Regions from separate parts of the Homo sapiens genome. Here all the other regions are linked to region 3. Evidence: fine-mapped expression QTL. A gene starts in region 3. Each other region holds a variant in brackets. All regions are shown on one strand. Distances are between the middles of the regions. Region 1 overlaps TUBD1 (tubulin delta 1). Region 2 overlaps TUBD1 (tubulin delta 1). Region 3 holds the start of RNFT1 (ring finger protein, transmembrane 1).

What was found. PIP is the estimated chance that this variant, and not a neighbour inherited with it, causes the effect.
Region 1: its variant is fine-mapped to the expression of RNFT1 in blood mononuclear cells (TOPMed, PIP above 0.99).
Region 2: its variant is fine-mapped to the expression of RNFT1 in whole blood (INTERVAL, PIP above 0.99).

Annotation. Positions count from the first base shown.
Region 1 is chr17:59,869,402-59,877,581 of GRCh38, forward strand. It overlaps TUBD1 (tubulin delta 1), which reads right to left. Exons shown (of 9, transcript NM_016261.4): 6 at 5,138-5,302. Among named protein-coding and RNA genes, the nearest start is that of TUBD1, 19 kb to the right of the region's middle. The variant T/G (reference allele first, on the strand shown) is at 3,859.
Region 2 is chr17:59,882,931-59,891,110 of GRCh38, forward strand. It overlaps TUBD1 (tubulin delta 1), which reads right to left. Exons shown (of 9, transcript NM_016261.4): 2 at 7,901-8,111; 3 at 3,153-3,300. The coding sequence starts at 8,072. It also overlaps the pseudogene NDUFB8P2. Among named protein-coding and RNA genes, the nearest start is that of TUBD1, 5.9 kb to the right of the region's middle. The variant CT/C (reference allele first, on the strand shown) is at 5,008.
Region 3 is chr17:59,960,437-59,968,616 of GRCh38, forward strand. It overlaps RNFT1 (ring finger protein, transmembrane 1), which reads right to left and starts at 4,304. Exons shown (of 9, transcript NM_016125.4): 1 at 4,172-4,304; 2 at 2,391-2,848; 3 at 2,104-2,180. The coding sequence starts at 4,227. RNFT1-DT (RNFT1 divergent transcript) reads left to right here and starts at 4,660. Exons shown (of 4, transcript NR_110815.1): 1 at 4,660-4,752; 2 at 5,967-6,031. It also overlaps the pseudogene TBC1D3P1-DHX40P1. RefSeq lists a silencer at 4,245-4,374 and an enhancer at 4,405-4,674.

The sequences.
Region 1 (8,180 bases), 91 kb before region 3:
GAGGCAGCGGTTGCAGTGAGCCAAGATCGCGCCACTGCACTCCAGCCTGGGTGACAGAGCAAGATTCTGTCCCCCCCGCCAAAAAAAAAAAAGAAAAAAGAAAAAATGTTGACACCCTAAAAGTTCCACATGGGAACTCAGCAAACTGTGGTTTATTGACCTAAGAGAGCTCAGAGCAGCATGTCTCACATGACTCTAAGGAACATTGTGTTCCTTGTGGTATTAACAGGTATTGCTCGAAAAACAGGTACTATGGCCAAAAAATTCAGGAAGCACTATTTTTACATGTAAACTTTCTACTTATCTCCAAACCTCTGGCACTATAATCTAAAATCCGTAAGATATTACAAATAAATGTTGAGAAAATCTACTCTCATAGTATAAAAGCCTAACTTAATTTGTGGTATAATATATGCTATTAATACCTAGTAGTGATTTCTAGTTACACATGACAGACTGAGCATATCAGTTTCCTGCCACTCTCTCTCCAGATCCTGCTTAATCACTAAAAGGATAAGCACAAACAAGAAAAAAAGGAACAGGAGAGAATATAACAGCAACAAAATTTTGGAGCTGGAGAGCAAATGGTTACTGACTGCACAACAAGAAAAAGCTAAAAATTTTGCCCACAATTGAGGTCCTGGAAGTAGACCAGACACTTTTCAAAGTGAAAAAAAGGCTGGGCACGGTGGCTTATATCTGTAATCCCAGCACTTTGGGAATTTGAGGCATGTGGATCACTTGAGGTCAGGAGTTCAAGACCAGCCTGGCCAACATGATACAACCCCATCTCTACTAAAAATACAAAAATTAGCTAGGTGTGGTAGTACACATTCATACATTGGTAATCCCAGCTACTTGGAATTCCGACTAAGGTGGGAGGATCACCTGAACCTGGGAGGTGGAGGTTGCAGTGAGCCAAGATGATGCCACTGCATCATCTTAGGCGACAGAGTGTGACTCCATCTCACAAAAAAAAAAAAAAAAAAAAAAAAAAAAAAAAAAATCAAAGTGTAAAAATACAGGAGGATTAACTAAAAATCTATTTGAGAAGCAGTGAGAGCCCCTTCCCCACTCCCTGCAGTAGGAGGAGTGCGCTCTTCCACCCTAGAAGGTTTCTGCTGTGAAAAGGCTAAACCTGGGAGGCTCTGGCCTCAGTGACACCTGGCACAGCCCTGTAGAGAACCTTTGGAAAACCAGGTCACGAAGTAGCAGCTTTCGCAGGAAAGTGTAACAGTCCATGTCTTCCCCGTCCAGCTCTGAAAAGGCTGGCAGCCAGGCTTATCATGCCTTCAGGAAAGAGATGGAGGAGGAAGCAACTGATCAAGAGATAAGATACGCTGAGTATGATATTTGGAAGTCCAGCAATAAAATGGCCAGGCAGATCACCTTACTGTGAAACCCACACAAGTCTGCAATGTCCGTAAGGGTCCATTCAGTGCCCGGAGCAACTAACTCAGCAAATAATCACTGAGCGTTTACCGTTCCAGGCTCCAAAGATGCAACAGTAAACCAAATAGATTAAATAAAGCTTACCTTCTACTGAGATAAACCAAAGACCCATGTCAAGTACTTTCAGAATGCTGGGGACAAAGAGAAAATCCTAAAAGCTTCAAGAGATAACAAAATAGGATTGGGAATCAGAACAACCTGAGACTTCTCAACAGCAACGCTGCAAGTGAGAAGATGATAGAGCAATGGCTTCGAAATACTCAGTAAAAAGAAAATGATTCCCAACCTAGAATCCTATCCCTGGCCAAACTATCATTCAAATGCAATGGCAGAACAGAATTATGATATTTATTTATTTTTGAGACAGGGTCTCGCTCTGTCGCCGAGGCTGGAGTGCAGTGACACGATCTCAGCTCACTGCAACTTCCCTCTGCCTCCCAAGTTCAAGCAATTCTCCTGCCTTAGCCTCCTGAGTAGCTGGGACTACAGGCGCCCGCCACCATGCCTGGCTAATTTTTTGTATTTTTAGTAGAGACGGGGTTTCACCATGTTAGCAAGGATGGTCTCGATCTCTGACCTCATGTTTCACCTGCCTTGGCCTCCCAAAGTGCTGGGATTACAGGTGTGAGCCACTGCACCCGGCCAGAATGAAGATATTTGTAGCCTCAAACATTTTAATTTCCTTGTACTCTCTTAGGGAGCTCCTGAAAGGTATGGTCCATCAATATGAGGGAATAAATCAAGAAAGCAGATTTGAAATCTAGGAGGTACAGATATAAATCAGGATGAGGCAAGCAGAGATGCCAGGGCTGGCTGCTTATCAAGCCTAGAGAGCAGTCAGTCCAGAATGGAATGGGAAGATAAATGCCTTCCAGAAGATGTCTCTAGGCAGATAATGGAAGTAATCACTTACCTGATGGGTTTAAACATATTAAGAAAGAATTCTTTTTTTTTATTTTTGAGACAGGGTTTTGCTCTGTTGCCCAGGCTGGAGTGCAGTGGCATGATCACAGCTCATTTTAAACTCAAATCCCTTGGTTCAAGGGATTCTCCTGCCTCACCCTCCCAAGTAGCTAGGACTACAGGTGCATACCACTATGCCCAGCATTTTTTTTTTTGAGACAGAGTCTCGCTCTGTTGCCCAGGCTGGAGAGCAGGGGTGTGATCTCAGCTCGCTGCAACCTCTGCCTCCTGAGTTCAAGCCACTCTCCTGCCTCAGCCTCTTGGGTAGCTGGGATTACAAGTGTGTGCCATCACGCCTCGCTAATTTTTTGTATTTTTAGTAGAGATGGGGTTTCTACTACATCCGTGTTAGCCAGGATGGTCTCGATCTTCTGAACTTGTCCGCCTCGGCCTCCCAAAGTGCTGGCTCACAGGCGTGAGCCACCCTGCCGGGCCAGCTAATTTTTTTAAATTATTTTTTTAGAGATGGGGTCTTGCTTTGTTGCTCAAGCTAGTTTTGAACTTCTGGCCTCAAGCGATCCTCCTGCCTTAGCCTCCCAAAGTGCTGAGATTACAGGTGTGAGCCATCACATCTGAGAAGGGATTCATTTTTTTACAGAAAAGTTTCAGGATAAGTTGGTAATAGGTACAGAAAATATCAACTGAATAAATATAATGATTAACAACTCCAGGAGGGAAAAATAAACTGTACACACAAAAAAATATAATCTATGTACACAAGGCTCTACTCTGAATAATATTTAGATAGCAAAAGTAGTACAAACATTGAAAACTGATCTAACTCCCAAGTATGTTAGAAGAATGAAGGTAATTGTGTTTGTATGTGTGAGTATGTGTGTGAGTGTGCACATGTGTCAGTATATATATGAAAATGGGAATGTGTGTGTGTGTGTGTGTGTGTGTGTGTGTGTGTCTGTGTGTGTAGAGGGGGTGTAAGATGATTCAATTCTCAATTTTTTTTTTTTTTGAGATGGAGTTTCACTGTTATCACCCAGGCTGGAATGCAATGGCACTATCATAGCTCACTGTAACCTCTGCCTCCCGGGTTCAAGCAATTCTCCTGCCTCAGCTTCCCAGGAATTACAGGCGACTGCCACCACGCCCGGCTAATTTTTTTGTATTTTTTAGTAAAGAAGGGGTTTCGCCATGTTGCCCAGGCTGGTCTCGAACTCCTGACCTCAGGTGATCCACCCACCTCAACCTCCCAAAGTGCTGGGATTACAGGCGTGAGCTACTGCGCCCAGGCCAATTCTCAATTTTCACACTAGGAATGCAAGAGATAACAATATAAGTAAGACATTTATAACTATGGAGGCAAATTGTAGATGAAATAGCTAGACGTTGAAAGTAGTTTCATCTGTGTAATGGGGAGGTGTAGGATTGCTGTTTTTCCTTGTCATAAATTCATACCAGACATTACTTAAGTTGTTTTTTGTTGTTGTT[T/G]TTTTTTTGAGAAAGGGTCTCACTCTGTCACCCAGGCTGAAGTGCAGTTGTGTGATCACAGCTCACTGCAGCCTTGACCTCCTGGGCTCAGGTGATCCTCCCACCTCAGCCTCCTAAGTTGCTGGGAATACAGGCCCATGTCACCATGTCCAGATAATTTTTTATATTTCTTGTAGAGATGGGGTTTTGCCATGTTGCCCAGACTGGTCTCGAACTCCTGGGCTCAAGCGCTTCTCCTGCCTTGGCCTCCCAAAGTGCTAGGATTATAGGTATGAGCCACCATACCTGGCCCATTACTTGACCTTTTAAAAAACTGAGATATAGGCCGGGCGCAGTGGCTCATACCTGTAATCCCAGCACTTTGGGAGGTCGAGGTGGGTGGATCACAAGGTCAGGAGTTCGAGACCAGCCTGGCCAATATGGTGAAACCTCATCTCTACTAAAAATACAAAAAAATTAGCCAGGCATGGTAGCACACGCCTGTAATCCCAGCTCCTTGGGAGGCTGAGGCAGAAGAACTGCTTGAATCCGGGAGGCAGAGGTTGCAGTGAGCCGAGATCGCGCCACTGCACTCCAGCCTGGGTGACAGAGCGAGATTCCATCTCAAAAAAATAAAATAAATAAAAAATAAAATACTGAGATATAATTGGCCGGGCACGGTGGCTCACTCTTGTAATCCCAGCACTTTGGGAGGCCAAGACGGGTGGATCACGAGGTCAGGAGATTGAGACCATCCTGGCTAACACGGTGAAACCCCGTCTCTACTAAAAATACAAAAAATTAGCCGGGCGTGGTGGCAGGCGCCTGTAGTCCCAGCTACTCGGCAGGCTGAGGCAGGAGAATGGTGTGAACCCGGGAGGCGGAGGTTGCAGTGAGCTGAGATCACGCCACTGCACTCCAGCCTGGGCGACAGAGCAAGACTCAGTCTCAAAAAAAAAAAAAAAAAAAAATTGAGATATAATTTAAATACAGTGCAATGTATGGATTTAAGTATATATTTAAATGAGTTTTGGCTACTTGATTTTTAAAACTATGTTCACTTATTTGATTAAAATAAAAATTTAAAAAAAATCTGGCACTCATTTGAAATGTCTTTTGGTAATGAAACTGTGAAGTGATTAAGAAACCCTCCTAAGATGTCCTGGTGAGTTTCTGCCGGAGTCTCTCTAGCCAGAAAAAGGGACCATTATTTAAACTGGTCCAAGCCAGTTTATATTGAGACTCCAGGACAGACATTTTTTCCAGCTTGTGGGCTGCATATTTTTGGACTACTCTTTACCTTCTTCCATCTTTGCATTAGAAATGAGCATCTGTCTCAAATGCTTGAGGAGGCCAGCCCAAGTAAATGTGGTGTATGCCAATGAATTCTCAGACATGTGAGGAATGTTACGAACACTCAGCATCTTGAATTCAGGATGGGGAACTAAATGCTCCATTAAGTCTCCTGTAAAGAAAAAAAAATCTGAACTAATTTTTTTTTATTCTACATTGTTGCCAATAGTCTATATATAACCATGATTTGAAGGTTTTCTGGGCCAAATGTTTTTTCTCTTCTCAGACCAGAATTATTTAATCTTTAATATAAATACAATTTCAGAGACAATGTCTATTACACACCACCTCTTTGCTTCATTTTAGCACTGACTTGAGCATGAGTGAGAAAATACACTTTGCCAAAAAGCAAACTACAATTTAGAAGCTGAATAACTGGAAATGTGAATGAAATATTTAGGTAAACTCCAGGCAAACAAAGTAAACATGAGAACTGATATGCTTTTCTTGTCATTCTATGTTCACTAAATATTGTTATATTCTTTTTTTTTTTTTTTTTTTTTGGGATGGAGTCTTGTTCTGTCGCCAGGCTGGAGGAGTGCAGTGGCGTGATCTCGGCTCACTGCAACCTCTGCCTCCCACGATCAAGCGATTCCCGTCTCAGCCTCCTGAGTAGCTGAGACTACAGGCACGTACCACCAAGCCCAGCTAACTTTTTGTACTTTAGTAGAGATGAGGTTTCACCATGGTGGCCAGGATGGTCTCGATCCCCTGATCTCATGATCTGCCTGCCTTGGCCTCCCAAAGTACTGGGATTACAGGTGTGAGCCACCGCACCCACCCTACTAAATACTCTTTTAGAAATGTTACTAGATTTTTACATACCGTATCTGGTTAGGTGATAATCAAACCCTGTTAACATGAAAGTTAATATAAGCCAGGCACGGTGGCTCACGCCTGTAATCCCAGCACTTTCGGAGGCCTAGGTGGGCAGATCATGAGGTCAGGAGTTTAAGACCAGCCTGGCCAACATGGTCTTGGTCTTAATAGAAACACTGTTTCTATTAAAAATATGAAAATTAGCCAGGCGTTGTGGCAGGCACCTGTAATCCCAGCTACTTGGGAGGCTGAGGCGGGAGAATCGCTTGAACCCGGCAGACAGAGGTTGCAGTGCATCGCACTCCAGCCTGGGCGACAAAGCAAGACTCTGTCTCAAAAAAAAAAAAAAGTTAACATGAAACTCTATTTGGAAAGAAGACAAGATTAGATATTCCTTAAGATAGGAATGTGCCTATCTTTAGAAACTTGTATTTACAATGAAATAGAATTAAGGAGAAAGGGTACTTTCCTTTACATTTACAGCTGTCTCATATGTTTATAGAAAATACCTTGAGGATAGGGAAAAATATATTACCATAATATGAAACAAACTTTATAACACTGAGTACAAACTCATAATGTACATCCTAAAGAAAAGAACAAATTTTGACACAAACATCTATAAGATGCTACACAGGCGGGCTTGTGCTAATGGAGTGTCCTCTAAATGTAGAATTCTTTTCTGTAAAATACCTAGAGTTGAATTCTATTGCATAGCACAAGTAAATATAGAATAGTCAGAAAATAATTCATGAGCACTAAGGCATGAATTCTTTTTTTTTTCTTTTTAGACAGTGTTTTGTTCTGTTGTCCAAACTGGTGTGCAGTGGCGCAATCAAAGCTCTGCAACCTCGAACTCCCAGGCTTAAGCAATAGCCCCACTTCAGCTTCCCTAGTAGCTGAGATTATAGGTGCACACCACCATGCCTAACTGTTTGTTTTTTTTTTGTTTTTTTTTTTTTGAGATGGAGTTTCGCTCTTATTGCTCAGGCTGGAGTGCATTGCATGACCTCAGCTCACTGCAACCTCTGCCTCCCAGGTTCAAGCAATTCTCCTGCCTCTGCCTCCCAAGTAGCTGGGATTACAGGCATGTGCCACCATGCCTGGCTAATTTTGTATTTTTTTTAGTAGAGACAGTGTTTCGCCATGTTACTTAGGCTAGTCTCGAACTCCCAACCTCAGGTGATCTGTCCGTCTTGGCCTCCCAAAGTGCTGGGATTACAGGCATGAGCCACCACACCCGGCCACTTTTTAAATTCTTAGTAGAGATGAGGTCTTGCTATGCTGCTCAGGCTGGCTTCGAACTCCTGGCCTCAAGCGATCTTCCCACCCTGGCCTCCTAAAGCACTGGGATTACAGAAGTGAGCCATGGTGCCCGGCCAATGCATGAATCACTAATTGTTGCAATCTGTTCTCCCTTCCAGCTTTCTTGTTCAGCTACTCTTACCTTAACCATTCTTTTTTTTTTTTTTAAATGGAGTCTCGCTGTCGCCCAGGCAGGAGTGCAGTGGTGCAATCTTAGCTGACTGCAACGTCTGCCTTATGGGTTCAAGCAATTCTCCTGCCTGTCTTCTGAGTAGCTGGGATTACAGGTACCCACCACCATGCCTGGCTAATTTTTGTATTTTCTGTAGAGCTGGGGTTTCACCGTATTGGCCAGGCTGGTCTCAAACTTCTGACCTCAGGTGATCCACCCTCCTCAGCCTCCCAACGTGCTGGGATACAGGCGTGAGCCACCACGCCTGGCCACCTTGACCATTCTTAAACCTCCTTGAGACTTTAATCCATGGAGCACCTGCCTTTCAATCAATCAGTCTTCCTCTTTCTGGCAAAATCCCAGTCTTCGGCCAACCCTGCTCCTCACCTTCTCTGTCAGAGCACAACTACGGAAAGTCATGCCACATGGCAGACTCGGACCTCTTTGAATTCCCAATCACCAAACACAATGCTGACGCGCACATTGACAACTCTGGATGAGATGGGAAACCTCAGGAAGGTTCTGAAAAGGGGAGCAACAGGATCTGACTTATGCTTTTAAAAACTGCAAAGCCAGAGTTCAGTCTGGCTGCTGTACTTAAGAAAAGGCTAGGGCCGGGTGCGGTGGCTCACGCCTGTAATCCCAACACTTTGGAAGGCCGAGGCGGGTGGATCATTTGAGACCAGCCTGGCCA
Region 2 (8,180 bases), 78 kb before region 3:
CAGGCCGCCACGCCCAGCTAATTTTTGTATTTTTAGTAGAGACAGGGTTTCACCATGTTGGCCAGGCTGGTCTCAAAGTCCTGACCTCAAGTAATCCGCCCTCCTTGGCCTCCCAAACTGCTGGGATCACAAGCGAGAGCCACCATACCCAGCCGCCCGGCTAATTTCTTTTTTCTTTTTTTTGAGGCAGAGTCTCACTCTGTTGCCCAAGCTGGAGTGCCGTGGCACAATCTCGGCTCACTGCAACCTCTGCCTCCCAGGTTCAAGTGATTCTTCTGCCTCAGCCTCCCAAGGAGCTAAGGCCACAGGCACAGGCCACCACACCCATCTAATTTTTTTTTTTTTTAATATTTTTTGAGATGGAGTTTTGTTCTTGTTGCCCAGGCTGGAGTGCAATGGTGTGACCTTGGCTCACTGCAACCTCTGCCTCCTGGGTTCAAGCGATTCTCCTGCCTCAGCCTCCCGAGTAGCTGGGATGGCAGCCATCACCACGCCCAGCTAATTTTTTCTATTTTTTAGTAGAAACAGGGTTTTACCATGTTGGCCAGGCTGGTCTCAAACTCCTTTCCTCAGATGATCTGCCCACCTCGGCCTCTCGCAAAGTGCTGGGATGACAGGCGTGAGCCACTGCAACAGGCCTAATTTTTGTATTTTTAGTAGAGATGGGGTTTCATCATGTTGGCCAGGCTGGTCTCAAACTCCTGACCTCAAGTGATCCACCTTGGCCTCCCAAAGTGTTGGGATTACAGGCGTGAGCCACTGTGCCTGGCCTCACCTGGCTAATTTCTTTTTAAAATTTTTTCGTAGCGATAGGGCCTCCCTTTGTTGCCTAGGGTGGACTTGAACTCCTGGGCTCAAGCGATCCTCCTGCCTTGGCCTCCCAAATTGCTGGGATTACAGGCATGAGTAGTGGCCATTCCTTTACCTGGTAGGTACCAGGTAGTTCTACAAGTTTTGATACCAGGTAGTTCTACAAGTTTATGATACAGTATAACATTTAATATTCCTAACAGTCCTGAAACAGTGGTTCTCAAACTGTGCTGCACATGGCTGGGCACAGTGGCTCATGCCTGTAATCCTAGCACTTTGGGAGGCGGAGGTGGGTGGATCATTTGAAGTTAGGAGTTTGAGAGCAGCCTGGCCAACATAGGGAAATCCAGTATCTACTAAAAATACAAAAATTAGCCGGGCGTGGTGGCATGTGCCTGTAGTCCTACCTACTCGGGAGACTGAGGCAGGAGAATCACTTGAACCCGGGAGGCAGAGGTTGCAGTGAGCCGAAATTGCACCACTGCACTCCAACCTGGGCAACAGAGCAAGACTCTTGTCTTAAAAAAAAAAAAAAAAAATTTTGCTGCACATTAAAGTCACCTAGGGACCTTTAAAAAATCCCAACATCAGGCCAGGCGCAGTGACTCACGCCTGTAATCCCAGCATTTTGGGAGGCCAAGGCGGGTGGATCACCTGAGGTCAAGAGTTCCAGACCAGCCTGGCCAAACTGGTGAAACCCCGTCTCTACTAAAAAATACAAAAATTAGCTGGGCATGGTGGCAGGTACCTGTAATTCCAGCTACTCGGGAAGCTGAGGCAGGAGAATCACTTGAACCTGGGAGGCAGAGGTTGCAGTGAGCTGAGATTGCGCCACTGCACTCCAGCCTGGGCGACAGAGCGAGACTCCGTCTCAAAAAAATAAAAAATCCCAACATCAGGCTGGGTGCAGTGGCTCATACCTGTAATCTCAGCACTTTGGGAGGCCGAGGCAGGTGGATCACTGGAGGCCAGGAGTTCCAGACCAGTCTGGGTAACATGCTGAATCCTTGTCTCTACTAAAAAAATACAAAAATTAGCTGGGCATAGTGGTGCACACCTGTAGTCTCAGTTACTCAGAAGGCTGAGGCAGGATAATTGCTTGAACCCAGGAGATGGAGGTTGCACTGAGTCGAGATCATGCCACTGCACTCCAGCCTGGGTGACAGAACGAGACTCTGTCTCTTAAAAAAAAAAACACCAAAAACCCAACATCAGGGCTTTACCCCAAACCACTTAAATCAGAATCTCAGCAGAAGGGAAATGTGAAGGTGAAGATGGCAGTGGCCAGGGCCAGGGTCCTGGGAGTCCAGTGGATGCAAAGGGCATCCCAGAAAGTGGTGCCGCTGGGCGCAAGGACAGCCTCCCGCATAACCAATGACATGCTCTCAGGGTCCTATCCTAGGACGCCAAAAGGACAGGCCACTGCCCTCAAGAAGTATAACATGTGTGTGGGAGACTACGAGCCTTACCCGGATGATGACATGGGGTATGGCGACTACCCAAAGCTCCCTGCATGAGAGGGATCCATGGTATAGCTGGGACCAGCTGGACCTGAGATTGAACTGGGGTGAACCGATGCACTGGCAGCTAGACATGTATACCAGGAATATGTCCCCCACACCTGTTTCTTGGAATGTCATGTGTATGCAGCTGTTCGGCTTCATGGCTCTCATGATATTCATGTTCTGGGTGGGGGATATGTACCCTGTCTACCAGCCCGTGGGACCAAAGCAGTATCCTTACAATAATCTGTACCTGGAACGAGGCGGTGATCCCTCCAAAGAACCTGAGTCGGTGGTTCACTACTAGATCTGAGGAGGCTTCGTGGGCTTTTGTGCCCTCTAACTAGGATTCCCTCATTCCTAGAAATTTAACCTTAATGAAATCCCTAATAAAACTCAGTGCTGTGGTTAAAAAAACAAAACAAAACAAAACAAAAATCAGAATCTCTCAAAGTGAGCCCTAGGCATCAGGACTTTTCCAAAGAACCTCAGGAAATTCTAATGTGCAGCAAAGTTTGGGAACTACTGTCTTGTAGTATTCTCTATCATTGAGATATCTGCCAGATATGGACATTACATTGGTAAGTTAGTTTGCAGCATGACAGTGAGAAGATGGAAAACCCTGCTGAAAGATATCCTTCATTTCAACATTACCTGTACCTTAAGTACAGACATAGGCATGGAATGAAAGTTTCTTCTGGGTAAAATAAAATTCTAAATCTAAAACAGCAATTTCAAGATTATGTGCTTGGTATATCAACTATACAGTTCTAACTTTGCTATCTATTAATTGACTGTGTAGCTGTCACTAAACTGAAAATCACAAGAAATTATTCTTACCCATATGCCCAGTTGTTTCCAGAACCTTGTTTTTGACAGAAGCATGCATGTTGACCATATTTCCATTGGCCAGACTGGGCAGCCTTTGACAGCATTTGATTGATAACTTTGGGTTCCATGTCAACAAGAACAGCCCGGGCAATTGGAACTAGAGGGGGAAAAAAACCCAAAAACATCGAAAGAAAAAAAGATTTATTATGTCTTATTTGGGTAACTCAGAGCATCTAAGTGTCCAAATCCAAAAAAAAAAAAAAAATTCCAGGGGTTGTGGTTAGAAAGATCTGTCGTACTGCTTAGAAATCTCAGTGGGCAGCAGCAGGCATATGCAGATGTTCACCAAGCCCAGCATTTGCTAAGCAGGCTGAATCAGTGTGGGCCTAAAAGAGTACCTGGGTCAGATTAGCCGGCGTGGTGGCATGTGCCTGTAATTCCAGCTACTCGGGAGGCTGAGGCAGGAGAACTGCTTGAACCTGGAAGGCGGAGGTTGCACTGAGCCAAGGTTGCACCACTGCACTCCAGCCTGGGAGACAGAGTGAGATTCTGTCTCAAAAAAAAAAAAAAAAAAAAAAAAAAGAGTACCTGGGTCAGGTCTACAAACATATGCTGAATGCTTATGATGTGCCATGGACTGTGCTGGGAATTTGGAGATGAAGACATCAAACTAGCCTTAGAAAGGGCAGGTGGGAGGCTGGGCGTGGTGGCTCATGCCTGTAATCCCAGCATTTTGGGAGGCTGAGGCAGGTGGATCACTTGAGGCCAGGAGTTGGAGACCAGCCTGGCCAACATGGTGAAATCCCGATCCTACTAAAAATACAAAATTGGCCAGGTGCGGTGGCTCACACCTGTAATCCCAGCACTTTGGGAGGCCGAGGCGGGCGGATCATCTGAGGTCAGGAGTTCAAGACCAAACTGGCCAACATGGTGAAAACCCATCTCTACTAAAAATACAAAAAATTAGCTGGGCGTGGTGGCAGGCTCCTGTAATCCCAGCTACTCCGGAGGCTGAGGCAGGAGAATTGCTTGATCCCGGGAGGTGGAGGTTGCAGTGAGCCAAGATTGAGCCATTGCACTCCAGCCTGAGCAATAAAAGCAAAACACTGTCTCAAAACAAACAAACAAACAAAAAACAAAAATACAAAATTAGCAAGACTTGGTGGCGTGTGCCTGTAATCTCAGCTACTCAGGAGGCTGAGGCACGAGAATTGCTTGAACCCAGGAGGCAGAGGTTGCAATGAGCTGCAATCACACCACTGTGCTCCAGCTTGGGCAAGAGTGAGACTCTGTCTCAAAAAAAAAAAAAGACTTGTGGGAAAGATAAATACATCAATACTTAATCACACTGCAACGTGATATGACCAAATAAATCCACACCAAAGGAACATCATATTTAGAGGTACAAAGTACCATGGGTACAACATCCAGCTCAGAATTGTTGGAGCAGAGGATGGAGAAGGAGAGGGTAGAAGTGATGGATGGGGATGAAAAGCAGGTAGGGCTCAATCTTGGAAATCTTTATAGGCAATGCTAGAAAAGCCTGAACTTTATCTTTTAGGCCATGATTAACCACCAAAAATTTTCAAGCAGGCGAGGAATAGTTAAATGTCTGTCAATCATAATTCACTGCAGCCTCAAACTCTTGAGCTCAAGCAATCCTCCCACTTTGGCCTTCTAAGTAGCTGGGACTTCAGGTGTGTGCCATTACACCTAACTAATTTTTATTGTTTTTTTTTCTAGAGACAGAATCTTGCTCTATTGCCCAGGCTGGTCTTGAATTCCTGGCCTCAAGCAATCCTCCCACCTTGGTCTCCCAAAACACTGGAATTACAGTGAGACACTGTGCCCAGCTGTTAGATGT[CT/C]TTTTTTTTTTTTTGAGATGGAGTCTCGCTCTGTCCCGCAGGCTGGAGTGCAGTGGTGCGATCTCAGCTCACTGCAAGCTCCGCCTCCTGGGTTCACGCCATTCTCCTGCCTCAGCATCCCAAGTAGCTGGGACTACAGGCACCCGCCACCACGCCTGGCTAATTTTTTTGTATTTTTAGTAGAGACGGGATTTTACTGTGTTAGCCAGGATGGTCTCGATCTCCTGACCTCATGATTCGCCCGCCTCGACCTCCCAAAGTGCTGGGATTATAGGCATGAGCCACTGCACCCGGCCGATGTCTTTTTAAACACAGCAGTACGGAGGATGGATGTGATAGACAGTAGACTCCAGGCAAGGAATCCTAAAAGGAGTGTCTTGAGACAGTCCAGGTAAGAAAGAACAAAAGCCAGACTAAAGCAAGTCAGTGAAGGTGGAAAGGGAAGAACAGTTTCAAGGAGTATATAGGAGGTCAAATAAGCAGATCTTGTTTGATGGTATGTATGCAGCAAGAGCACAAGGAACAATAATGAATGCCTTGGGAATAGAGATGTTGAGTTTCAGGTTCATATGAGAGATGTGGGTGGAGATATCCACTAATCTGTCTAGAGCTTTTAAGAGAGGCTGGGCTAGAGGTCTGAAAGTCACAGGTGTAATAAATGTAGCAAACTATGACAGTGAAGTTGCCCAGAGAGAACTATGCAAGTGAGGACAGGGGAGATGCAACAACTGGAGAAGAAAAGTGGGGTGACTAGGAGAAGGAGGTTCAAGGAGAGAGTTGTTTTTTGTCTTTTTTTTTTCTTTTTTGAGACGGAGTTTCGCTCTTGTCACCTAGGCTGGAGTACAATGGCACACTCTCCGACTCCCGGGTTCAAGCGATTCTCCTGCCTCAGCCTCCCAAGTAGCTGGGATTACAGGCACGCACCACTACGCTCGGCTAATTTTTGTATTTTTAGTACAGATGGGGTTTCACCACGTTGGCCAGGCTGGTCTCGAACTCCTGACCTCAGGTGATTCACCCACCTCGGCCTCCCAAAGTGTTGGGATTACAGGGATGAGCCACCATGCCTGGCTTTTTTTTTTTTTTTTTTTTTTTGAGACGGCATCTCGCTCTATTTCCCAGGCTGGAGTGCAGTGGCGAGATCTCGGCTCACTGCAACCCCCCTCCCGGGTTCAAGTGATTCTCCTGCCTCACCCTCCCGAATAACTGGGATTACAGGTATGTGCCACCATGTCCGGCTAATTTTTGTATTTTTAGTCGAGACGGGGTTTTACCCTGTTGGCCAGGCTGGTCTCTAACTCCTGACCTCAAGTGATCTGCCTGCCTTGGCCTCCCAAAGTGCTGGGATTATAGGCGTGAGCCACTGCGCCCTGCTGGAAAGAGTTTTTATACGTTACTGTTATCAAACGCAGTAGAGGAGTAAAGTGAATTAAGAAAAGAAAGAGAGGCTGGGCACAGTGGCTCACGCCTGTAATCCCAGCACTTTGGGAAGCTGAGGTGGGCAGATCATTTGAGGTCAGGAGTTCGAGACCAGCCTGACCAACATGGTAAAACCCCATCTCTACTAAAAATACAAAAAAATTAGTTGGGCGTGGTGGCGCATGCCTGTAGTCCCAGCTACTCATGAGGCTGAGGCAGGAGAATTGCTTCAACCTGGTAGTCGGAGGTTGCAGTGAGCCAAGATCGCACCACTGCACTCCAGTCTGGGTGACAGAGCTAGACTCTGTCTCAAAAAAAAAAAAAAAAAAAGAAAAAGAAAAAGAAAGAGAGCCTGTAATCCCATCACTTTGGGAGGCCAAGGCAGGCGGATCACTTGAGATCAGGCATTCGAGACCAGCCTGGCCAACATGGCAAAACCCTGTCTCTACTAAAAATACAAAAATTAGCCAGACATGGTCGTGGGCACCTGTAATTCCAGCTACTTGGGAGGCTGAGGCAGGAGAATTGCTTGAACACGGGAGGTGGAGGTTACAGTGAGCCAAGATCACATCACTGCACTTCAGCCCGGGTGACAGAGCGAGACTCTCTCAAAAAAAAAAAAAAAAAAAAGAGAGACAGAGAAAAGAAAGAGCCAGGCATGGTGGCATGCACCTGCAGTCCCAGCTACTCAGGAGACCTGTGAATAGCCACCGCACTCCAGCTTGGGCAACATAGTGTAGTAAGAACCTGTCTCTACAAGAAAAAGAAAAAAAGAAAAGAAAAACAGTAGTTGGATCTGGTGATTCGGAGGTCACTGGAAACTTTTCTTAGAGCAGCTTCAATGATGCTATGTGGGGCAGAAGCAGGATCATAGGTGGTTAAGCAGGGTCCTTTTATTTTTTTTGGAGATGGAGTCTCGCTCTGTCACCAGGCTGGAGGGCAGTGGTGCGGTCTCGGCTCACTGCAACCTCTGCCTCCTGGGTTCAAGTGATTCTCCTGCCTCAGCCTCCCGAGTAGCTGGGATTACAGGCACATGCCACCACGCCCAGCTAATTTTTGTATTTTTAGTAGAGATGGGGTTTCACCATGTTGGTCAGGCTGGTCTTGAACTCCTGACCTTGTGATCCACTCGCCTCGGCCTCTCAAAGTGCTGGGATTACAGGCGTGAGCCACCACGCCCAGCCAGCAGGGTCCTCTTTTGAGAATCTTAGATGAAAGGCAAAGAGATAAGAAGAAGAAAGCCAGTCAATAGATGAGTTTTGTTTGGTTGGTTTTAAATTGGTGAGATCTGAGCATGCAGAAGGGAAAATGCCACTGGAAAAGCAAAGATTATTAACATAGAAATGAAAAGCAAAAACAAAGTAATTCCCTAGTGAGATGGGAAGGAATGGGGTTTAAAAACCATGTGGAAGGCCTGGCTTTGAAGGGGTTGGTTAGATCAGAGTAAAGGAGAGGACTGTGGGCCACACCTACCTCCATTCTCCTCCTCACTGAAGAATCTTTCTTTGCAAGATGCTTGATATGCCTCATTCTCTCTCATAGAGCAGAGTCCCTGGGAACTGTGTGAGTCACTAAGCAAAGCATCAAAAACTTCAAAACCAATCTGATTGCCACACTGACCAAGTTGCACTGTTACAATTGACATGCTGAGCCACAAACTAGGTGTATTACCTCTAAAAACAACCTGTAATCGAAAAAAATACGCTTTGAGAACCACTACATTACTAATAAGAACAAATAAAATGCCATGTAT
Region 3 (8,180 bases):
CAAAAAAAAAAAAAAAAAAAGAAAATTAAATTAAATTAAAAAAAAAAAAAAGAAGCCAGGTCTTCTACAAGCTGACATAAAGGACCCACCCAGGACGGGGGCAGTGGCTCACACTTGTAATCCCAGCACTTTGGGAGGCCAAGGTCGGCGGATCGCTTGAGGTCAGGAGTTTGTGACCAGCCTGCCCAACATGGTGAAACCTGTCTCTACTAAAAAAAGTACAAAAGTTAGCCAGGCGCCGTGGCACGTGCCTGTAATCCCAGCTACTCAGGAGGCTGAGGCACGAGAATCACTTGAACCCAGGAGGCAGAGGTTGCAGTGAGCCAAGATCACGCCACTGCACTCCAGCCCGGGTGACAGAGCAAAACACCGTCTCAGAAAAAAAATGGACCCACCCACAAAAGAAAATTTCAAAATGCATTTTAACCTTGACTCACTTGTCAAGGTTTATATTTTTTAAATTCTCAGATTATAAGAATTTAATAAATTAATGTTTTAATCTCACTTTTTTAATATATGGGGTCTCGACACATTGCTCAGAATTCCTAGGCTCAAGCATTCTTCCCAACTCAGCCTCCCAAGTAGTTGTAATCTCCCTTTTTTTTTTTTTACTTTTTTGAGACTGGGTCTCACTCTTTCACCCAGACTGGAGTGCAGTGGCATGATCACAACTCACTGCAGCCCCAACCACCTGGGGTCAGGCAATCCTCCCACCTCAGCCTCCCAGATAGCAGAGATTACAGGCACGTGCCACCACGCCCAGCTAATTTTTTGTATTTTTTGTAGAGATGGGGTTTTGCCATGTTGCCCAGGCTCGTCTTCAATTCCTGGGCTCAAGCAATCTGCCCATCTCAGCCTCCCAAAGTGCTGAGATTACAGGCATGAGCCACTGTGCCTTGCCTGTAATCTCACTTTTAAAGTCAAGTTTAATGAAGTTTTACTAATTTTAAATCATTAAGATTTTTCTAGTTTGATAGGTTTAACTATAAATTTCCAGGTCAGAATGCATGATACTTTACACAGACATAGCCATTTAAAGTTGCCTTAAGGTGAAATTTTAGAAACTCATCCTCTTTTTCCCAATGATTTATATGACGGGCTCGTGTAACTTATGTTATGGAAAAATTCCTTGGGTTTCATTTTCTCTCTTTTTTTTTTTGAGATGGAGTCTCACTCTGTCGCCAGGCTGGAGTGCAGTGGCACAATCTTGGCTCACTGCAACCTCTGCCTCCCGGGTTCAAGCAATTCTCCTGCCTCAGCCTCCCAAGTAGCTGGGACTACAGGCAAGCGCCACCACGCCCAGCTAATTTTTGTGTTTTTAGTAGACATGGGGTTTCACCACATTGGCCAGGCTGGTCTCAAACTTCTGACCTCAGGTGATCTGCCTGCCTGGGCCTCCCAGAGTGTTGGGATGACAGGCGTGAGCCCCTGTGCCTGGCCCAGGTCTTTTTTTTTTTTTTTTTTTTTGAGATGGAGTCTCGTTCTGTAGCCCACGCTGGAGTGCAGTGGTGCGATCTCAGCTCACTGCAACCTCCACCTCCCAGGTTCAAGTGATTCTCCTGCCTCAGCCTCCCGAGTAGCTGGGAATACAGGCACATGCCACCACACCTAGCTAATTTTTTGTATTTTTAGTAGAGACAGGGTTTCACCGTGTTAGCCAGGATGGTCTCAATCTCCTGACCTCATGATCTGCCCGCCTCGGCCTCCCAAAGTGCTGGGATTACAGGTGTGAGCCACCATGCCCAGCCACTAAAAGTTTTTCATGATGATGGTCTTACTTACTATGGTCAAAGTAACTGATACAACATGAAGGGACTTGCCAAATCAGATCAGATACCGTGTTCTAACTCTTTTAATCCTTTTTACTACTTTAACAGTAACCAATTTTTTTTTCTTACAAAGAAGGTAAGGTGAAGGAATTCAGCATTAGGAGAGATAATTTATTCCAGGATTTAGATAACAAATTTAACATAACGTGGATGTTACAATATATCCTATTACTTCCTATTTCTTTCAAGTTATTTCCTATTTCTCTCAAAATTATTTCTCTAAAATCTATGGAGAGAAACAGTTAATAATTTTTTAGTTGCTTGTTATACTTACTCTTAGAAAAACCTGATTTACAATGCTTTTGTTTGCATACATAAAAGTTGTTAGCAGCCCAATTCCAAGAGAAATTCCTGTTAGAAAATAAGTTCCAGTTAATTGAAAGAAAAAAAAATCAAAGAGGATTATATAAGCTAACAATGACACAAATTAAAAATAAACATATACAATAATAAAAGCTCACAGAAAATAAGTAACTGGATGCATTAAGTAGATTACCAATAATGAAAGAAAATTAACTGAATTTAGGAATGAAAACAAGTCAATGTTTTATTATGTCCTACCTGTTATATGCTGCATAACAAGTTTGACGCTCAGAATCAAAATATATGGAAGACTTTTTTGCAGCCACTTGAAGAGATAGCGGAATTCTGAGAAGGAGCTACTACCATGATCTCCAGATTCTGCGGCAGTATCATCAGTCAGCCTTGCTTCACTGTGGGAGTGACCCCGTAAGCGACTGTGTACACATCCATGGGCACAGCTATGGACACCTGACCTTATATTTCTGGAGCTTGCATTTTCTGCACATTCTTTAGGTATGGAGTTTATCTGGATATGAACATCTCCAGAATGAGGGCAAGAACCCTCTCCTGTCAATCTTGTGTGGACACACTGAGGGGTTGAGGCATCCTCACTGCTTCCAGTTCCTGGAGGACTGTGCAGTTGGCTACGATTGGCTTGCATGGCCCTTAAATACTTTTTCTCTGACCCAGATGTCTTTGCTTCAGGCCTCTGTCTCCTAAAAAATCAAATAAAAGATATTCTAAGTAAACAGGCAGTTAAATACCAGCAGTATATTCCTCACTGGGTATCCTTTATTCACTAAAGGAGTAGCAAATAATCACAACAGATGAATTTTCAGGTTATTTATCACTGGACTCCTCCCTTCTCCCTTAATGCCAAGGCTCTGCTGCCCTACACAAATGATCTTTTAGGGAACATTTGCACCAAAAAAAAAAAAGTTGAGCTGCAAATGCTTCCAGTTCTCTAATGGCAGAAGGCATCCGCAAAACAGTCATGAAGTATGGGTACCCAGCAGATGTTAATGAGCACCAGTCCTCACTGGGTACTCTGGTACATTTACTTTTCCCAAATGGTGCAGTTTCATCTCTGATGTAGATTCTACATCAAAGAAGTTTCATAAGGAAGAGTGAGCCAGTATTTTTTAATGGTTGGAAATGTTAGGAAAAAAAACAACATTAAATCTTAATGCCTTATTATCATCATAGGTAACTAATAATAAACACTGCACTTAGGTGACCTACAAATTAGATTTTCTGCTCAAGCAGCTTTCCCAAAGCTCATAAAGTTTCCAATAATTAATGGTGCCACCAATAATATTACCTCCCCGCGCAAAAGAATGTTACCTAAATACATTTAAAGCATAGATACTTTGGAGAGTCACCACGTAATTGCTAGGTAACTCTTTAGTCTGAATAAGCAGTTACACAGTCCGCCCAATAAAATGCCACCGTCGGTGGTGTGTGTATTACGGAGGGAGGGGTGTGAGGAAAGAGGACTCTAGCAGAGAAAGATCTCTCTAATAAATGATCCAGTGTGGACCTCCTAGAAACAGAAGAACAGAGTCGGAATCCCAGCTGACAAAACGCAGAGGCTATCCCACACTGCCGTGCTTTTCCCGTTTGTCTAGGAGGAGGCTAGAGTTAACGTCAGGGAATGTTCTGTGTCATTCTATTTCACTCCCAGGACTGAACAGTGGTGCAGTCACCGTGTCTGGCGGTTTGGGTTTCAGTGCTTTTCACTAAAGGCTTTCACCGAGGCCCCGACGCCACGGGTGTTATTTCGTCAAAACTGAAGAGCGACGTTGGACAGCAGGCTTTCAGTGTCTTTTCTATAAATAACATAGAACCCTCCCACTTTCCTTCATGCACAGACAAGAAAGAGGAGAAAAAAGGGAAGAAAATTCAACACAACTCTTCCGGAATCTCCGAGGGCAGAGTTCTCCACCCACGTCCGAGCCTCGAGTGCCTATTCTCCCCAGAGCCCCCTGCGCCGCGGCCCCTCGCCGCCTCCTCCTCTGCCCGCTTCCCCCAGGCCTAACCTCTCATGACCAGAAGCGGACGGAGGTGTCGGGAGCGACAGCAAGAACAGCGGCATACACCGCCTCCAGCCCTTCAGTCGGGGCCATCAACCGCAAACCCCGCAAGCTCTTCTCTCAGCCCGGCGGCAACGGCGGCGGCGCGCGCGCTCCCCGGACGTTCTCACGCGCGCGCGCGCGCCCTGCCCCGGCTCCACCTCCTAGCCCCGCCCCCGCACCGCGCCGAGTGGAGAGCTCACGGCTGCCGGGGTGTTTTGGCAGCGAGAACAAGCGAGCTGCGCCTGAGAACGGCCTTCAGGCCTGGCGCTAAATAATAAGTCGTTGTTATGTGTTATGTATTTATGTGGCATCCACCACACGCCTCCGAGATCCTGGGCGTTTTGAGGTTAAAAATGTTCAGGCTTGGAGAACCTACCCCTGGAGGAGTGTTAGGGTTTCCGGGCTCGGATGTCCGCGAGCTTGACGCCTGACCTAGTTGTGTCTGTCTGGGCGGTGACGTTTGGTCTGAGCTGACCTTTCCTCACAATCGTGAATTTGGGCTGTGAGGATCAGGCCTTGTCAGAACCCGAGATGAGAGGAGAGAGGTGCGGAGAGTCTGCGTGGGGTGGAAGTAGAAGTTAGAGTTGAAAAACCTGTCTTGCGTGGGGTATAGAGGACCCTACTGCCCTCAAAATAATTATGTTAATCTAAAACTGTTCTAAAATTAAAAGGTTATTAAGAAAACGAAGTTTAGGTCGGGCGCAGTGGCTCACACCTGTAATCCCAGTATTTTGGGAGGCCGAGGCGGGCGGGTCACTTGAGCTCAGGAGGTAGAGACCAGCCTGGCCAACATGGTGAAACCCGTCTCTATTAAAACTACAAAAATTAGCCGGGGGCGTTGGCTCACACTTGTAATCCCCGCTACAGATACTCGGGAAGCTGAGGCATACGAGAATCACTTGAACCCGGGAGGTGGAGTTTGTAGTGAGCCAAGATCGTGCCACTGCACTCCAGCCTGGGCAACAGAGTGAGTGAGACTCGGTCTCAAAAAATAAATAAATAAAATAAATTCTGTTAATCTAAAACTGTTCTAAAATTAAAAGGTCATTAAGAAAACGAAGCTGAGGAGGGGAGTGGTAGCTCACACCTGTAATCCCAGCACTTTGGGAGGCCAAGGCGGGTGGATCACAAGGTCAAGAGATCGTGGCCACATCCTGGCCAATATGGTGAAACCCCGTCTCTACTAAAAATACAAAAATTAGCCGGGTGTGGTGGTGCGTGCCTGTAATCTCAGCTACTCGGGAAGCTGAGGCAGGAGAATCGCTTGAACCCGGGAGGCGGAGGTTGCAGTGAGCCGGGATTAGCCACTGCACTCCAGCCTGGCAACAGAGCGACACTCCGTCTAAAAAAAAAAAGGTTTAGGCCTGGCGTGGTGGCTCACCCCTGTAATCCCAGCGCTTTGGAAGGCCGAGGCGGGAGGATCACTTGAGGTCAGGAGTTTGAGACCAGCCTGGCCAACATGGCGAAACCCTGTCTCTACTAAAAATACAAAAATCACCCGGGCTTGGTGGCGGGCGCCTGTAATCCCAGCTACTCGGGAGGCTGAGGCAGGAGAATCCCTTGAACCCAGGTGGCGGAGGTTGCAGTGAGCTGAAATCGTGCCACTGCACTCCAGCCTGGGCGGCAGAAGGAGACCCCCACCTCAAAAAAAAACACATTGGCTTTCTTTTTTTGTTGGGGGTGGGGGTAGGGGTGGTCGGCGGTGGTAGAAGGCATACTTAAGTCTCTCTGTGCTTACTAATTTAAATCTTTCTGACAGATTTCTGGTTCAGTAAGGGTGAGAGCCAGGCTCCAGACTATAGTGAATTTTCCGAGGAGATATGTGTAAGTATTCTAACATTTCAACTATGTCGTGGATATTTTTAAACTTCAAAATGTGTGAACATTTAGGAAACAGGAAAAAAAACAGAATATAACATAATTCAGCCACAGCCACAATGCAGCACCAATATGTATTAGTACACTGATAATTTTAGTACATTTGGTACATTTGTAAATTTAGAATACCAAATGTAGTGTTTAAATTCTCATCTTGGCCAGATACTACGGTTCATTCCTATAATCCTAGCACTTTGGGAGGCTGAGGTGAAAAGGTCGCTTGAGCCCAAGAGATCGAGAGCAGACTGGACAACATAGAGAGACCCTGTCTCTAGAAAAAAATGTTAAAATTAGCTGGGCACTGTGGCAAGGGCCTGTAGTCCCAGCTACTCAGGAGGCTGAGGTGGGAGAATCCCTTGAGCCAGGGAGATTAAGGCTGCAATGAGCCGTTATTGCTCCAGTCTGGGAACAGAGTGAGACCCTGTCTCAAAAAAAAAAAAAAAAAAATTCTCCTTTTGACATACTCATAACACTGCAGGTATATTAGTCCATATTTAAAGTTTATTAGTGCACTTGGAGCTGCATTTCACCCAAGTAACTTGACTGAAAAGTGACATATTTGAAGAAAGAAAGGACTGAATTGATGAGAAGATTTGACTTGGTGACAGGCTATTATCTGATAAATTTTCTTTCCACTGGCATCTGGACTGTTGGAAATAGACATTTTAATTTTAATTGGTTAATTCAAAAAGCATTTTCCAAGTACTTACTGAGTGTTAAGAATAATACTAGATGTTGGAGAGAGAGACATAATAAAGAGTCTCGGGCCAGGCATGATGGCTCACACCTGTAATCTCAGCACTTTGGGAGGCCACAGCAGGTAGATCACTTGAGGTCAGCAGTTCAAGACCAACCTGGCCAACATGGTGAAACTCCATTTCTGCTAAAAACATAAAAATTAGGGCCAAGCACAATGGCTCACGCCTGTAATCCCAGCACTTTGGGAGGGTGAGGCAGGCGGATCACCTGAGGTCAGGAGTTCAAGACCAGGCTGGCCAACATGGTGGAACCCCGTCTCTACTAAAAATACAAAAATTATCGAGGTATGGTGGCACGCGCCTGTAATGCAGTTACTCAGGAGGCTGAGGCAGGAGAATTGCTTCAACCTGAGGCAGAGGTTGCAGTGAGCCAATATCATGCCACTGCACTCCATCCTGGGCAACAGAGCAAGACTCCATCTCAGAAAAAAAAGAAAAAGAAAAGTTGCCATCTCATGGTGATGGAAATGTTTAGACCTGCAAACAAATAATTACAGTATTTTGGAGAAAACACTATAATTGAAGGTTCTGTGAGATGCAATGGAAGCAAAAGGTAGAAGCATTTAACTTTGTCAGGGAAGAAATCTTTTATTAAATTTGTGATATTTAAGATGAAATCTTTTTTTTTCTTTCTTCTTTTGATAGAGTTTTGCTCTGTTGCCCAGGGTGGAGTACAGTGGCGCAATCTTGGCTCACTGCAACCTCTGCCTCCTGGGTTCAAGTGATTCTAGTGCCTCAGCCTCCTGGATGAAATCTTAAGAATAAGTTGATATTTACCAGGACAGAAGCAGTAACAGGGCAATGCAGATAGAAACATTATATGGAAAATGGTGGTATTGAAATACCATGGTCTTTTAAAGAGTGTTTTTCGTATTTGGAAGAGTAGAGTGGATAGAGTAGTAAGAGATAAGTCAGGTAAGTATGAGCTAGAAAATGAGTTTGTGGGCCTCACTTAGTTTATTCTAATGGCCAAAAGGAAGCTATTGAGTTTTAAGCAACAGAATTGTGTGACTGGATTTGTGTTTTTCAGAAAATTCATATGCTGATAGTAGCAGTGCAAGCTCCATTAGGAGACTATTATAAGTAGTTCAGGAACAAGATGAGGTCTTGAACTTGTCAGTGAAGTGGGATTCAAGAAGAAGAATGAGATTGGAGAGGTTATGAAATAGAATCAGTAGGGTTAAGTGTCCTAGATTGTTGCAGTTAAGCTCGTCACCCCCTCTACTACCCACACAAATTTTTCACACCTACCAATGTCCATATGCTTGGGTAGTCTCCTCGCAGACTGATTTAAGTGATTTGCTTTGATCCTTGGGACAATAGCAATTGTAATGTTA